Regions from separate parts of the Homo sapiens genome. Here region 1 is linked to region 2. Evidence: fine-mapped expression QTL. A gene starts in region 2. The other region holds a variant in brackets. All regions are shown on one strand. Distances are between the middles of the regions.

Evidence for each region.
Region 1: its variant is fine-mapped to the expression of TCL6 in whole blood (INTERVAL, PIP 0.92).

Annotation. Positions count from the first base shown.
Region 1 is chr14:95,664,255-95,667,163 of GRCh38, forward strand. It overlaps LOC124903372, which reads left to right and starts at 559. Exons shown (of 2, transcript XM_047432042.1): 1 at 559-822. The coding sequence starts at 769. The region is part of intron 4 of TCL6 (T cell leukemia/lymphoma 6); the gene reads left to right. RefSeq lists enhancers at 1,166-1,813, 2,460-2,909. The variant C/CT (reference allele first, on the strand shown) is at 1,533.
Region 2 is chr14:95,650,415-95,653,323 of GRCh38, forward strand. TCL6 (T cell leukemia/lymphoma 6) reads left to right here and starts at 1,683. Exons shown (of 8, transcript NR_028288.2): 1 at 1,683-1,812; 2 at 1,963-2,075.

The DNA.
Region 1 (2,909 bases), 14 kb after region 2:
TGGTCTTGCAGAAATCAGGGAGTTGTGGGGACCAGGCAGCCACTGTGCATCAGATAGGAGTTTCAGCAGCAGGCAACAGAAAGCCTGCCAATGTAGCTGAAATAAGAAGGGCTTATTTTTATCCCTGAACAGAAGCTTCCAGCACTGGTTCATCAGATCAGGGCACTGAGCTGGCATCCCCATTTATACAGTTTTCCTTTCCTTCACCTTTGTAAGATGCCTGGCACAGCTCTGAGCATCAAATATCTGTGCCATGTGGGAGCACACGAGGGGACAAGTGGGGAATAGGGTCTCCTCTGTCCTCTGTCCCCAGGCTGGCTTCTCTCGTGGTAGAAGGACCCCCACAGCACCAGGCCTCATAACTACCCTGCTGGTAAACTGCAGGTGCTGTCACGGCTTCCTGCCTTCGTATATGAAATGTTCCTTGGCAGCTGGACTGCTGTTTGTTTACCGCACGCACAGCTCTGCTGCCTCTTGGTTACACCAGTGAGCTATTGCTCCATGACAAGCCACACCGAAATGTAGCAAGCACTTATTGTTGCCCACATGTGTCAAGTCAGTTGAGTGTTTCTGCCAACCGGGGCCTGGCTTGGCCCACCTTGGCTGAGCTTGCTCTGGTGCTAGGGTCAGCTAGACAGGTCGGCAGGAGACCAGCTGCTCTAGAAGAGCCTGGACAGGATGAATTGGTTCTCCTTCCACGTGCATCTTGCATCCCTCCAGCCAAGGATTTGAACCCAGGTCTCGTCTGACTCCAAATGCACCAAGAGGATGGAGCCCAGAGTGACACAGAGGAAGAGGCCCCTGGATGGATGCATGGGGAAGGTGAGGCCTGGAGGTGATATGCTTGAGATTACCAGGCTCTTCTGAACCTGGGGGACCTTCTCCTATGATAGCCCTGCTCCTCCAGACCCAGCAGGTGATTTCCCCAAAAGCCGCTTACAGTGAACGCACCTGATAGCAATAACTTAAGCATCCCCTGAGAATGACCCTTATGGCAGGTGCAGGTGAATGTGGTTTGGAGTTCTGAGCTAAGGAATCTGGGAGTGGCCAACCTGGAGATTCATTCCTATTCCTTATCTATGAGGAACATCTGAGCTCCTGTCCCGTCCTGTGCAACACGGACAGTACAGGGGATCAAGGCCCTTTGTTTTGGGTTAGGTAAATGTTGCCAGGTGGACACTGTTGGGGGAGGGTGCTAAGTGAAGATGCTATATATGCTGCAAGCTTTTTGTAAGTTGTGTGGCTCTCCTGCCCAGCCCACCACTGCTAGATGCTCTCCCCTGCATGTAAGCCCCAGTAAAACTCCATGTCTCCTTCAGCAGCCCTGGGTCCTTTCTTCAGCCTCTCAAACCTGCTGCCATCCCCATTGGAGTAGATAGGGGTTCAGCATAACAGCAGCCACCAGCTGGGGAAAGGCGTGGCATTTGGAGCTCCCTACATGGTCTTGACTCTAATATGGAGGGAAAGAAAACAGATTCTGCCCTGCTCAGTAAAGCCCCCTACTGGCCTCCCACCCTGGACTGTGGACAAAG[C/CT]TTTTTTTTTTTTTTGAGACGGAGTCTCACTGTGTCCCCCAGGCTGGAGTGCAGTGGCGTGATCTCAGCTCACTGCAAGCTCCGCCTCCCCGGTTCACGCCATTCTCCTGCCTCAGGCTCCCGAGTAGCTGGGGCTACAGGCGCCTGCCACTACACCCGGCTAATTTTTTTTTTTTTTTTCATTTTTAGTGGAGACGGGGTTTCATCGTGTTAGCCAGGATGGTCTCGATCTCCTACCTCGTGATCTGCCCACCTCGGCCTCCCAAAGTGCTGGGATTACAGGCGTGAGCCACTGCGCCCGGCCAACAAAGCATATTTTTTTCCTCTGAGGTCTTTACCCTATAACTGCAAGTGGTTTCATGACACTGCACATGGGTTCTTATCTGGGGTTGGTAGATTCAACTCAATTCCACAGGTTTACTGGGTGTTGCCTCCCATGCTTGGAGCCAGGAGGATGCAGGGAAATGGGGCTGCCACCATACCCGCTCTTCTTATGATCCCATCACATCATTGCACCCTTTGGGGCCTGGCACCATGCTCTGGCACTTTGCCTCCATCATCTCCTTTAACCTCTGAGCTCTGTCAGGAAGGCATTACTACTATCCCTGGAATACAGACAGGAAAACTGAGTTGGATTGAGGCTCAGAGAGGTTAAGTCACTTACCCAAGGTCACAAAGCTAGAGAGTGGCAGGCCAGCATCCAAGGCCAGCAACACGAGCTCCCTCTGATCCAAATGGTGACTCTATGTTTGATCAGTGCTCTGAGAACTCTCCAAAGATCTTTATCAACTGTCATCTCTTCATTGCCCAGGCCCAGTCAGGGAGCCACTTGGCTGCGGTCCCGCTGAGATTTAGGGGCAGGACCCCTGATGTGAGGTGGAATGCTTGGTCACGCTGTTCAAGCCTCCACCAGTCACTCCTGACTGGTTATGGACACTCAATGTGCCCCGTCCTGTGTGCAATGCAGTGTGGGAAGGGGATCAAGGACCTTGGCTAATCCCAGGCATTTCCCCAGAATGTCCCAGGTGTGGACCCCTTGGGAGGTGCTGGGAAGCAGGCTGGTGTCCCACAGGCCTTGGTTCCATCCCAGCTGTGCTGTGCTAAGCTGAAACTCTTTGGGCAGCTTGTTTCACCTCATGAGACTTCTTTTTCTGAACTGTTAAATGGGATGATTCGACCTCTGCTTGGCTTTTGGTGACGATTAAACGAGATATTAGCTGTAAAGCATTTCATCCCGGGTCTGGTATAGAAGAAGCACTTGATAAATGAAAGCTCTGTTGAGTATGATGATCCGTCACCCCAGGCATCAGTGGGATCTCACAGCAGGAACAATGCCTAACTCCTAACTGATGCCCAGTAAACATCGGGTGGATGCAA
Region 2 (2,909 bases):
AGCAGGATGTGGGTGGGGCCAGATAAGAGAATAAAAGCAGGCTGCCCGAGCCAGCATTGGCAACCCGCTCGGGTCCCCTTCCACACTGTGGAAGCTTTGTTCTTTTGCTCTTTGCAATAAATCTTGCTACTGCTCACTCTTTGGGTCCACGCTGCTTTTATGAGCTGTAACACTCACCGCGAAGATCTGCAGCTTCACTCCTGAGCCCAGCAAGACCACGAGCCCACCGGGAGGAATGAACAACTCCAGACACGCTACCTTAAGAGCTGTACCACTCACCGCGAAGGTCTGCAGCTTCACTCCTGAGCCAGCGAGACCACGAACCCACCAGAAGGAAGAAACTCCGAACACATCTGAACATCAGAAGGGACAGACTCCAGACACGCCACCTTAAGAGCTGTAACACTCACCGCGAGGGTCCACGGCTTCATTCTTGAAGTCAGTGAGACCAAGAACCCACCAATTCCGGACACAGTGCTGAGAATCATGCCTTGAAATCTAGCAGCTCTGTTAAAAACTGAGCAAGGTGTACTTCGGGGTTGTGTTGAGAAGGTTGGTGTTCAGCTAAATCAGGAGGGAAGGCCAAGGAAAATCAGGCTTGGCACCTGTCAACAGGTGGGACCCAATAGCCAAGCAAATGGTCCTGCAAACTGTACTACCCAACGTTCACAGCAAGGATTCCAACTTCTCACCAGGGCATGGAAAATTTGCCTTCATGTCAACCACCACCTTAGCCCTTGACTACCCAACGGACTCTTCCCAAGTCAACAGCCACTTCCTCCCTGGGGCTTAACAGGCATTCCTTGAAGCCTGCCCCGGGCAGTTAGTCCTTCCCTTTTGTGTGAACTCTCGGCTGTTTTCGTTGTCTGCACACAGAGCAGTGGTCTAGGGAGCGAAGGGTTTTGGAATGGACCTTTTCCTTTCTTAGCTTGCTGTAGGGATTGTGCTTCAGCTAAGTAAAGTGGAAAAACAGAAGTACAAAAGCAACAGCCCCAGATCTAAGGGCACCGTAGCTCTGGAATCTGGATTTTATTCCAGATTCAACCCTCAGCAGGGAGTTGAAGTGGTCAGCCCTGTGCTTTACAAGGCTGATTGGGCAGCACCCATAGTAGAATTGTCAATATAAAGTAATTGAAAGGATCAGAATCCAGGGTTTTCGTTGTTTTTAAGTTTTTAAGTTTTAAAAACAAAGTTGTTTTTGTTCGTTTTTAAGTTTACTTCTCTTTAATCGGTCTCACTTTATTGACCAGGCTGGTTTCGAACTCCTGGGCTTAAGTGATTTCTCCTGTCTCAGCTTCTCAAAGTGCTGGGATTACAGGCGTGAGCCGCTGCACCCAGCCCAGAATCCAGTTTTAAAGAGTTTATTCAAGCCAAAAGCTGGGAATGGCCATCTGAGAAACACAGACTCTAGGAAAATGGGGCCAGGGCCCTGAAGTTAAAAGTTAAAGTCTTGCTTACATAGGCAGAAAGCAAAGACATTTAGTAACCTTGTAGAACATTTTCTTGTATAACTTTTCTTGTTTTAACTTTCTTGTTTAACATTTTCTATGCAAGGCTGGTTTATGAGTTACAACCTATAATTAATTATAGGTTGTTCCCCTGCCTCCACCTTGTTTTCTTTTCTCTACAGCTTGTTTTCATTTCCTTTCCAATTTAAGAATGTGTTTAACATTCTATCCCAGACAATGTGATGGTCATGAAGTCTCTGTCAGAGAGGAAAGAGGGAGTTAATCTATAATGAAGATCAACAGTGAAGAGGAAAGGGGTCTTCCCTGGAACGCTTCAGTCATATACGACATTTTACACAACAATGTAAGTAAGGAAAAAGGCTAATCTATAATCAGAGAAACAAAGGTTGCAGCTGCCTGTTTACATGACTCAGGTCCCATGATCAAATTCCCTTAAGGCTCGAAATATTTTAAAGTTCCAACAGCTTAGATTTTGAATTGCTTATTTTCACAGAATGGACCTGTGTAAGGAGGTATGTGTGGGAGAAGATTCCAGAAGGTCTTGAGACACTCCAGATGAAGGTTGGTGTGGGGCTGTGCTGCTGGAGCACCAGAGAGTGAAAAGAGGCAAGCGATTTATAGTCTCATCAAATATCGACAAGTTTGGGTTTTCCTTTAGAGTTGGGCAGGGCCTGGCTGGACTTCTTTCTCCACCAGTCTCCGGGAGGCTCAAACAAGTTCTGATTTTCAGGTTCTGAAAAAGCTCTCAGGGAAAAAGCAGCTTCCATTCTGTTTTTTTTCCCTTTCTGCATTCTACTTCCCTTTTATTTTTGGCCTGGTAATTTCTGTCTTATCAGCTTTTAGATGTCCTTGAGATTTTTCTTTTCTTTCATTTTTTTTTTTTTGAGACAGGGTGTAAACCAAAAACTCTTTTATTCTTTTTTTTTTTCTTTTGAGACAGGATGTAAACCAAAAATAAAATTCTAAGCCCCGCCCTCCCTGCAACCATCTGAATGGACTTCCTCCTGGGCCAGGGTACTTTTAACCTGAAAGACTGGTTCAGGCCATGATGGAAAGTAGAGGTCAGACAGGACTCATTATACCTCTCTGATGAGAAGCATTTACAATCTATTTTCTCTGAAGCCTGCTACCCGGAGGCTTCATCTGCATGGTAAAACTTTGGTCTCCACAACCTCCTATCACAGCACAGACATTTTCTTTCTATTGAGCCCAGATCTTTAGATAAACTTAACCAATTGTCAACCAGTCAATTTTAAATCTACCTGTAACCTGGGAGCCCCCAACCTCCACCCAACAATTCAAGTTGTCCCACCTTTCTGGACAGAACCAATGTATTTCTTAAATGTATTTGATTGACATCTCATGTCTCCCTAAAATGTATAAAACCAAGCTGCACCCCGACCACCTTGGGCATAGTTCTCAGGATCTCCTGAGGGCTGT